2 separate regions of the Homo sapiens genome follow, and region 2 is linked to region 1. The links come from fine-mapping of genetic effects on gene expression. A gene starts in region 1. The other region holds a variant in brackets. All regions are shown on one strand. Distances are from middle to middle. Region 1 holds the start of MEN1 (menin 1). Region 2 holds the start of SF1 (splicing factor 1).

The links.
Region 2: its variant is fine-mapped to the expression of MEN1 in whole blood (TOPMed, PIP above 0.99).

Annotation. Positions count from the first base shown.
Region 1 is chr11:64,808,162-64,813,457 of GRCh38, forward strand. It overlaps MEN1 (menin 1), which reads right to left and starts at 2,390. Exons shown (of 10, transcript NM_001370259.2): 1 at 2,353-2,390; 2 at 1,504-1,971. The coding sequence starts at 1,948.
Region 2 is chr11:64,776,063-64,781,430 of GRCh38, forward strand. It overlaps SF1 (splicing factor 1), which reads right to left and starts at 2,480. Exons shown (of 13, transcript NM_004630.4): 1 at 2,300-2,480; 2 at 436-564. The coding sequence starts at 2,330. RefSeq lists silencers at 1,625-1,934, 2,195-2,594 and enhancers at 2,257-2,858, 2,835-2,944. The variant C/T (reference allele first, on the strand shown) is at 2,857.

The DNA.
Region 1 (5,296 bases):
GGTAGTGATGGGCCACACTCCCTCCCACTCCCTTTCCAAGCCTGTGACCCAACCTCAGATTCTCCTGCCCACTATCCCTCCATCCCTTCCCTCCCACGTGTTCAAAGACTCTCTCCCTGTTTACACCCTCTATGTCCAACAAGATACCTTTCTGGATATCCTGTAGCTGACCCAGCCTTTGGCCCTACCTCGTCTTTCTCTGCAACTCTATTATATATTCTATGGATTTAGGGATTCCATTTTACTGCACTTACTAGGTTAAAACAGGAATGGCAAAAACAGGACGCTGGCCAACACTCTCTGGCTATACACCCACCAACAAATAACCCTCATTTATCTCTGCACTCTTTTCCTGCTAAGCTGAGAAGCAGCCTCTGATTCCTTCTCAATATGGCACACCAGGATGGGATTGCCAGTCAACCGGGCTTGGTGCAAAGCTCTTTGCAAGCCCTGACTCTTAAGCCTTTTGAGGTCAAGCCCCTTCTCTGTCTCAAACATTTTTGACCAGGTGCGGTGGCTCACGCCTGTAATCCCAGCACTTTGGGAGGCCAAGGCGGGCGGATCACGAGGTCAGGAGATCGAGACCATCCTGGCTAACATGGTGAAACCTCGTCTCTACTAAAAATCCAAAAAAAAATTAGCCAGGCATGGTGGCAGGCTCCTGTAGTCCCAGCTACTCAGGAGGCTGAGGCAGGAGGCAGGAGAATGGCATGAAAGCAGGAGGCAGAGCTTGCAGTGAGCCGAGATTGCACCACTGCACTCCAGCCTGGGCGACAGAGTGAGACGCCGTCTGAAAAAAAAAAAAAAATTTTCATAGGCCACCAGTTGCGGTGGCTCACACCTGTAATCCCAGCATTTGGGAGACTGAGGCGGGCAGATCACTTGAGCCCAAGAGTTCAAGACCAGTCTGGGCCACATAGTGAGACACCATCTCTACAAAAAAAATACAAAAAATTAACCAGCACCACGGTGCATGCCTGTACTCTCAGCTACTCAGGAGGCTGAGGTTGGAGGATCTCTGAGCCCAGGGAGACTGAGGCTGCAGTGAGCCATGATCACACCACTGCACTCCAGCCTGGGGGACAGAGTGAGACCCTGTCTCAAAAAAAAAAAAAAAAAAAATCTTCATAGCCATTATTTTGTTTAACTGCCTCAAATGCAGCCCAATTTCATCTTCTTGCCCCCTAAATCTGCTGCCGCCCTCTGTGTCTCATGCTTAGAACTCCTGTAGCTGTTCAGTGGCAAGGGTGGGGGTGCTGAGGGGGCAGAGGTGAGGTTGATGATTTGGAGCCAAGTGATCAGGCTTCACTTCCAGCCCTGCCATGCCGTGTGTGACTTTGGCATATCATTTCCCCTCTCTGGGCTTCAGTTTCCCAACTGCAAAGAGGAAAATAACACCTGCCGAACCTCACAAGGCTTACAGTTCTTAAAAGGGTTCTGTAAACCATGGAGGGTTTTGAAGAAGTGGGTCATGGATAAGATTCCCACCTACTGGGCTCCAACCTGTGATGAAGCTGAAGAGGGACTGGATGTGGGCCCGATCCTTGAAGTAGGAGCGGCTGAGGCTGTTCCATATGACATCGGAGACCTTCTTCACCAGCTCACGGCTGGAGACACCCCCTTCTCGAGGATAGAGGGACAGGTCGACGGCGCCTCGGATCTGGGCGGTGAAGCGGGCATAGAGGGCGGCGATGATAGACAGGTCGGCCACGGGAAAGTAGGTGAGGCCGCCAGGCGGGTCGGGGGCGGGGCTGGGCTGGAAGGTGAGCTCGGGAACGTTGGTAGGGATGACGCGGTTGACAGCCAGAAAATGCTCCACGAAGCCCAGCACCAAGGAAAGGAGCACCAGGTCCGGCTCCTCTCGGCCCAGCTCGGCAGCAAACAGGCGCACCACGTCGTCGATGGAGCGCAGCGGGAACAGCGTCTTCTGGGCGGCCTTCAGCCCCATGGCGGCGGGCGGTGGGCGGCGGCCTGCAAGGCAAGCCGGGGGAGGGAGGGTCGGGCAGGTTCGGCCGGGGAGCCTCCTCCCAGGGTCCGCTAAGGTTCCACCCGCCCCGACACACGCACAGCTCCCCTGCTTCCCCACCCTCTTCAGCCTCTGCTCACCGGCTTCCCCTCTTTTGTCGGTGAGACCCCTCAGCCGAGACTGCAGAGCCTTTTTGTCCCCCACAATTCCGGGACGCCCGGTACCCGATGGGGTGCGCCCCAAGCACCCCAATGAGGAGCCCCAATGGCCGCCCCGCCCCCTCTCTACGACTGTGCCCCCGGGGCTGTAAAGTCTGTCCAGAAAGCGCACCCAGGTCAAGCCCCCAAACCCCAAGGAGAGTCCTGGCCTCGGTCCCCCTCGCCCACCTCCGCGCTTACATCCCACACTAGGCACCGCGGCGCACGCCGCCCGGAGCCTGCTGGGACATGAAGTCCCGCCCCTAGGGTCGCACTACCCGCCGGGAAGTGGAGTCTGGGCCCACCCCTGCCCCGCTGAGCCTGGAAATAGTGGCGGGCCGGGCCGCTGCGCTGTGGCTTCTGGGATCTCTAGGTCCGCGGCTCCGGACACCTCCTTCCCGAGATACTCAGGGATTGGCCCTTCCCTTCAGGCCGACCAGGCAGGAAGCGTGCCCGCAGTGCCTTCTGGAAAATGTAGTCCGGGGGCACTACCTGCAGACTCGGGGTGGGAGGTCGCCGAGCTTCTGCCGGTTTTGCTGTCACGGGTCGGTCGGCAAGTTATGAGGAAAAAGATCAGGTTGCTTGATCCAGAAAAAATTAAAATAAAACAATATGAGAAAAACAGATACTTTTAAACACTGCCAGAGAGTAAATGTGTTCAGCCGCTTTAGCTGGGTATCAGTGTCTGTTAACATATAAAGATGCCTACTCTGTGTGCAGCACTCGTTTCCCACTTCCGCCCGCGAGATACTCTAACACGTGCTAAGAGTAGCTTTTGTTTGTTTGTTTTGAGACACGGTCTTTCTCTTTCGCCCAGGCTGGAATGCAGTGGCTCGATCTGGGCTCACTGCAGCCTCGACTTCACGGGCTCAAGCGATTCTCGTGCCTCAGCCTCCCGAGTAGCTGTGATCACAGGCGTGCGCCACCACTCCCGCCTAATTTTGTGTGTATGTGCATATACATAAATATATATACATATAACACACACACACACACACACACACACACATATATATATATATATATATATATTTTTTTTTTTTTTTTTTTTTTTTTTTTTTTTTGCAGAGACAGGGATTCCCAGCTACTTGGGAGGCTGAGGCGCGGGGAATCCCTTGAACCTGGGAGGCGGAGGCTTCAGTGAGCCAGAATCTTGCCACTGCACTCCAGCCTGGGCAACAGAGTGAGATTCCGTCTTAAAAAAAAGTCCCAAGTAGCTGGGATTATAGGCGTCCGCCACCACACCCAGAAAACTTTTTGTATTTTAAGTAGAGATGGGGTTTCACCATGTTGGCCAGACTGGTCTCGAACCCCTAACCTCAAGTGATCTGCCCGCCTCAGCCTCCCAAAGTGCTAAAATTACAGGCGTGAACCACCTTACCCGGCCAAAGAGTAGTTATTTGTTTATTTGTTTTGAGACAGAGTCTCGCTCTGTCACTCAGGCTGGAGTGCAGTGGGGTGATCTCGGCTCACTGCAACCTCTGCCTCCCAGGTTCAAGTGATTCTTCTGCCTCAGCTTCCCAAGTAGCCGGGATTACAGGTGCCTGCCACCACACTTGGCTAATTTTTGTATTTTACTTAGTAGAGACAGGGGTGTCACCATGTTGGTCAGGCTGGTCTCGAACTCCTGACCTCAAGTGATCCTCCTACCTCGGCCTCCAAAAGTGCTGGGATTACAGGTGTGAGCCACTGTGCCTGGCCTGTATCAACAACGCTTTGAAACTTTGAAATAATACTAAATTTCCACGGTCACTCATTTATTTGCTTATTCATTCAAAAAAAACAGATTTTTGGTACTTACCATGGGCCAAGTTCCAGACACTCGGTATATAGCAGTAAATAAAACAGATTAAATTTCTGCCCTACTTCACCTCTTCACCTCTCTGGATTTTCCTCAAAATTTATAACTCTCCTCTAATCATGAGAAAACATCTGGCAAAACAGAGTTGAGGGACATTCCACAAAATACCTGACCAGTATATCTCAATAGTGTCAAGTTCATGCCAGGCTCATGCCTGTAATTACAACACTTTGGGAAGCTGAAGCAGGAGGATTGCTTGAGGCCAGGAGTTCAAGACCAGCCCGGGCAACATAGGGAGACCCGGACTCTACAAAAACAAAAAATTGACCAGGTGTGGTGGTGCTCACCTGTAGTCCCAGCTACTCAGAAGGCTGAGGCAGGAGGATTATGTGAGCCCAGGAGGTCAAGACTGCAGTGAGCTGTCACGCCAGTGCACTCCAGCGTGGGCAACACAGTGAGACCCCGCCTCAGAAACAAAAAACAAAAGAAATCAAAAGAGCCAAGGTCATGAAAGATAAGGAAAGACCCACAAATCATTGCAGATGAGAGACCAAGGAGACAGAACAACTAAATGCAATGTGGTGTTCTGGATCAAATCCTGGAACAGAAAAAGGACATCAGTAGAAAAACTAGTAAACAGGGTAACCAGCCTTCCAAGCTGGCCCAGAACTGAGGCAACTCGGGAGTATGCGACTTTGAGTTTAATTTAATTTAATTAATTAATTAATTTATTTATTTATTTATTTATTTTTGAGACAGAGTCGCTCTGTCGCCCAGGCTGGAGAGCAATGGCACGATCTTGGCTCACTGCAACCTCTGCCTCCCAGGTTTAAGTGATTCTCTTGTCTCAGCCTCCCGAGTAGCTGGGATTACAGGCACCCGCCACCACACACGGCTAGTTTTTGTATTTTTAGTAGAGATGGGGTTTCACCATGTTGGCCAGGCTGGTCTTGAACACCTGGCCTTAGGTGATCTACCTACCTCAGCCTTCCAGAAGTGGTGGCATTACAGGCTTTAGCCACTTTGTGTTTCAAAAACAGTCAAAGCTAAGCTCAGTGGCTCACACCTGTAATCCCAGGGCTTTGACATGCCAAGGCAGGAAGACTGCTTGAGGCCAAAAGTTCCAGACCAGCCTGAGCAACAAAGCAAGACCCTGCCTCTACAAAAAAAAAAAAAAAAAAAAAAAAAAAAATTATTTTAAATTAGCCAGGCACAGTGGTGTGCACCATGTAGTCCCAGCTACTCAGGAAGCTCAGGCAGGAGTTCGAGGCTGCAGTGAGCTGTGATCGCACCACTGTATTCCAGCCTGAGTAACACAGTGAGATCCTGTCC
Region 2 (5,368 bases), 32 kb before region 1:
AAGTAAAAGACCACATTTTAGGGGGAGAAATATAAAATTATGGTGAAAGGCCACGCTGTGAAAAGTACTTGGTTTACAGTACCTGCGGTGTTCTCCACTGGGGCCTGTCCAGAGAGGCAGATGACACTCACCTCATCAACTGGCAATGAACAGCAGCTGAAAAGGGTGGCTGCTGGACTGGGGACTGTTCTTACTCCTAAGTGAAACCCTACCTTCCTGATACTCATGGAGAACACTGCAGTTACGAACAGACCAAAACAAGGAGCTGCAAATGCAGAACTCACTGGGCAAAAACTGACAGATGATACCAAAGTCGTGAAAGTATCTCATCTCAAAAAAGATAACTACAATCTCAAACTTTCAAAAAATGCAGATCTTGCTCAGAATAAATCGTAACAATCTCAAAGTGCATTTGGATGCAGAACGTATATTTACCTATATAAGCTCTTTCTTGTTCTCGAGTAAGTCCAGGGGGAATAACTGTAGGCATTCCTGGAATCACTGTCTTCTGTTCCATTGTGTCTTGGTTCCAGCGGCTCCTCTTCCGCTTCTTACTTGGGAAGTCTAAAAGGCAGAGACAAAATCCATCCGATGTAAATACAAGTAGTTATCAACAGACAGCTAAGGGTATTTAAGGTACTACACAGAAACTCAGCAGACTGTGAAGCTGAGAGCTTAACCTAAAACTTAAACATTAAAAAAACAGAAAACAAACCTCAGAGATCAGAGATTTAAAGCTTATGGCCACTACAAGGGTATGTGGTCCTTGGTCAGGCAAGTTAACATTTCACCTTCTTTTGTCTAGAAAAACTGTCAGATATATAAACGTGGTAATCTTAATGCATATGGCTGCAGAGAGTGTTAGATAGATACTACATCAACCATGAGTGCTCTGAAATCCCCAGGGGAGACAAAAATACACTGAAGAATCATAGATTTGTAAAGCAGTCCTGATGGGACTGGGGGCTCCACCCACCTCCACTCCCCTCACCAGTCACTTTTGTACGAGAGGCCGGACCACAACTAAACCTAGTTACACCCTACCAAGTGGGAAAAGCCCAATTCTTCAACAAGATCACCTTTGTCTTCATAAGTTTAGCCAAGATCAGCATTCAGTTTTCCTGGCCAGTTGGACACTGAGGGTCTGAACTCTTAAAAGGATCTATCAAAAATTCAACAACCTATACAATAGCAGCCAAGTTCTCCTTTCCCCGTACATAGGCAGAAACTCCCTACATTTGCCACAAAAGAGTCCTTCTATTTCCCAAGGGGTACAGGATCAGAGGGAAAAGCTTTTTAAAACAAAGCGACAGGGCAGCCGATCAGACTGAGATCTAAACATACTGAACAGATTTAAAAAAAAAAACAAACTAAAATTCTCTCCCCAAAAGAGACCAAGAAAGATCAGACCCAACCATCATCTGAAGCATGCCAACCTCTCCCGGATGAAAACCCTGCCTTGCTGTAGAAGCAGAGGAGCTATCCTTGGTACGGTTCCCATTCTGGTTCCTCAAGACCAGAAGGGAGTCGCTGCACGTCATCAGGTGAGGCTTTCACGCCCTGCTGGCATTCACAGCTAGCACCCCGTCCAGCGCTGAACACCCGCCACCCCTGTTCCCGACACCAGCGGACTGGACAGCAATAGTGGGCCCCCAGTCTATACAGTTGCGCCGCACAGCCCGGCCACCTCACTGCGTCTGCGCACAGAGCGCCTCCCGCCCGCCCAGCCCTCCCCCCACAGCGCGCGTGCGCACTCGAGGCCCTAGAACCAGGCCGCGCGCGCCCAGGGGCGCCTCCGCCCGGGCCTCCCCGTGCGCGCACGCGCGCCCCTGCCGCGTGCAGCCGCCGTCGCCGCCGCCGCGCGCCCCTCAGGCGGCCGGGCCCGTCCGCGCGACGCCTCTCGCGCTCTCTCGGCCCGACTCACCTCCTCCGCCGCCGGCCGGGCCCGGCTGCTGGTCCTTACGCGGCGGCTGGGGTGGCGGCGGCTGCGGCGGCGACACGCGCTGGTAGAGCGGCGGCGGAGGGGGCGGCTGCGGCGGCGGGTACGAGGCGCCGGGGGACGGTGGCGGTGGAGGCGGCGGCGGCTGCTGGGGAGGCGGAGGGGGCGGCGGCGGAGGCGGCGGAGGCAGCGCCGCGAAGGGGAAGGCCGCGGTCAGGGCCCCCATCGAGCCCACGGGCGGGGGCGGCGGCGGCCCGGGAGCCAGCAGCCCCGCCCCAGGCCCGGGTGCAGGCGGAGGGCCCGGCTCGAAGCCTCCTTTGGGCCCGGGGAGCGGGGGCAGCCCGGGGGGGCCCAGCTTACCCAACGGCGTGGCGTTCGCTCCGGTCGCCATGGCGCCCCCGGGGACAGGCACCGGCACCTGCTTTTCCTCTGCGGCGGCTTCTCCTTCGCAAGCCTCCCGGGGGGAGGGGACCCGAATGCGCTGCCGGAGCGCGCGGAGCCCGTCCTCTCACGCGGCGGGCGGCGGCGGCGCGAGACGCACAAAGAGGGAGGAGAGAGGGCACCGCGGGGGCGGGCCGGGGGCGGCGGGGCCGGGGCCTGGATTGGGCCGGGCCGAGGCGAAGGGTCGAAATCGGCGGCCTCCGATTGGCGGAGCCTCAGTCCTTCTTGATGCGCGCTGGGATTGGCCGAACCGTTAGGCCAAGCGAGGAAATGGCGGCGGAGTTCGGTGGGCTGGGAGGTGTCGCAGCGCGCACTTCATTTGTTACTGCGTGAACTGAGCTCCGAGTCCAGAAAGGAGGGGATGGGGTGGGGCGAACTCTATGACGGAGCGACGGCGAGCTCTCTCATTGGCTGCGGTGGTGGACTCAATCAATCTCGCCTGCGTTGTAGTGTCGCGGGATTGGCTGTCGCTGGTT[C/T]CAGCCTTTTTCTACTCCCCTCCCCCAGGGGGCAGTTTCTCCGGGATTAAGCGAGAGTCGCGGCGGAAAAGGCCCAGCCGGAACGAGATTTACGGCGGGGGAGTCCTGGAGCAGGAAGTGCGCATGCGTAGATGGAGCAAAACCGCCTCTCCACCCGTCTCCCTTCACCATCGACCCTTGGGTCCAGCAAGGAAGCCCTAAGTGACGTCAACCTTTGTTCCCATGGTAACGCAGAACCTTGGGGCGGGAGCAGGGGAGGGGCTGGCGCGCGCCGGAAAACCGGCTCAGTTGACGCTGCAGGTAAAAAGACTTCCTGTTTTTTTGGAAAAAAAAAAAAAAAAAAAAAGTGACCCAAAAAGCTACGAATAGAGACGACTTATCGAAGGATTTAAAACAGTATTTGAACTGATGCAACAACATATTAGATGAAAGGTAACAGAAGGTTGTCAGTTCAAAAATTACAAATACACACTTCTATTGGAATCTCCACGGAGTTCAGAGGATTTAATTAAATGATCTTAAAATCGTATAAAACAATAACTACGGCCGGGCGCGGTGGCTCACGCCTGTAATCCCAGCACTTTGACAGGCCGAGGCGGGCGAATCACAAGGTCAGAAGGTCGAGACCAGCCTGACCAACATGGCGAAACCCCGTCTCTACGAAAAATACAAAAATTAGTTGGGTGTAGTGGTGCACTCCTGCAATCCCAGCTTCCCAGGAGGATGAGGCAAGAGAATCGCTTGAACCCGGGAGGCGGAGGTTGCAGTGAGCCGAGATGGGGCCACTGCACTTCAGCCTGGGTGACAGAGCGAGACTGTCAAAAATAAAAATAAAAATAACTACTACAGTACTGGGAAAACTTTACAAGACGGAGCAGGAGCTTGCCTTTCCAGATGACAAACATAGTATATAAAACACAATAGGCCAGTGCCAAGGCACTGGGAGGCCAAGGCGGGGGGATCACCTGAGGTCAGGAGTTCGAGACCAACCTGACCAACACGGTGAAACCCCCGTCTCTACTAAAAGTACAAAAATTAGCCGAGCGTGGTGGCAGACGCCTATAATCCCAGCTTCTCAGGAGGCTGAGGCAGGAGAATTGCTTGAACCCAGGAGGCGGAGGTGTAGTGAGCTGAGATCGCACCACTGTACTCCAGCCTGGGCAACAGCATGAGACTCCGTCTCAAAAACAAAAAACCACAATAATAAAACAATATGATATTGTTGGTAGGAAAGACACATTAGTGCAACAGAATCCGGAAATACCACAAATGTAGTATTTTATTTCAATCAGGAAAAGATGATTTCGTTGATAAATGGCGTAGAATCTTAAATTTAAACAACAAAACATTTAGAATATAATTTAGGAGACTATAAGGGTATTCTAGGGGTTGAGAGACTGCAAAGACAGGAACCTCAAACTGTAAAAAGATATACTTGATTACCCCGAAAATTAACACTGATAAAAGTCAAGAGACAATGATAGATGAGGAAAAAATATTTGCCATACATGATAAAGAGCCAATACCTGTAATATACAAATACATCTTAAAAACTAATTAGAAAAAAGGCAAAAACAATAGAAAATGAGCAAAAAATAGGAATGGACATGTCTCAGAAGAACAAATCCAAATAGCCAAGAAATATGAAAGGGTGCACAACCCCTCTGCTGTGGTTTTTTAAAATAAATAGAAAAGATGTTGGAACCCCCACAACACTTGAAACCTGGAGAGAGAGGTGACTGTGATCTCAGCCATGTATGGTTATAATTTTTTCTGAGATAATAAATTAGACCTGCTTGTTTTTCTTGTTCTGTACAATTATTGGAGAGAATTAAACATGGGACAAAAACCTGCTGCCTTCTTAATGACCCTTCTTATAGATAACTTCCCTTTTGTTGTCCTGCTTTACTTAGACCAGATGACAGCAAACCCATGACTATTACACCCTCTGTAAAAAATGTTAAATGTATGCCTCCCAAAAAGAAACACTGCTTACAACCAAATTATTTATTATTATTATTTCAATTTGAGACAGAGTCTGGCTCTGTCGCCCAGGCTGGAGTGCAATGGCACAATCTCGGCTCACTGCACCCTCTGCCTCCCAGATTCAAGCGATTCTCCCACCTCAGCCTCCTGAGTAGCCGGGATTACAGCCACCTGCCATCATGCCCAGCTAATTGTTACATTTTTGTAAAGATGGAATTTCACCATGTTGGCCAGGCTGGTCTTGAACTCCTGACCTCAGGTGATCTGCCCGCCTCGGCCTCCCAAAGTGCTGGGATTACAGGAGTGGACCACTGCACTCGGCCTATAACCAAATTACTGTAAGTACGCACTGACCATATATGAAGAATGTAATCCTAAAACTCCTCTGCCTTTGTGTGTGTAAATGAAACCTTAACTTCTCTACTTCGAAACACTGACTCCATTCATTTGGAGTCGGTGTTTCCAGGTAGTCCACCCTCATGTTTTGTGCTTGAATAAACTATTGAAATTAGATTCTGACCCTTTT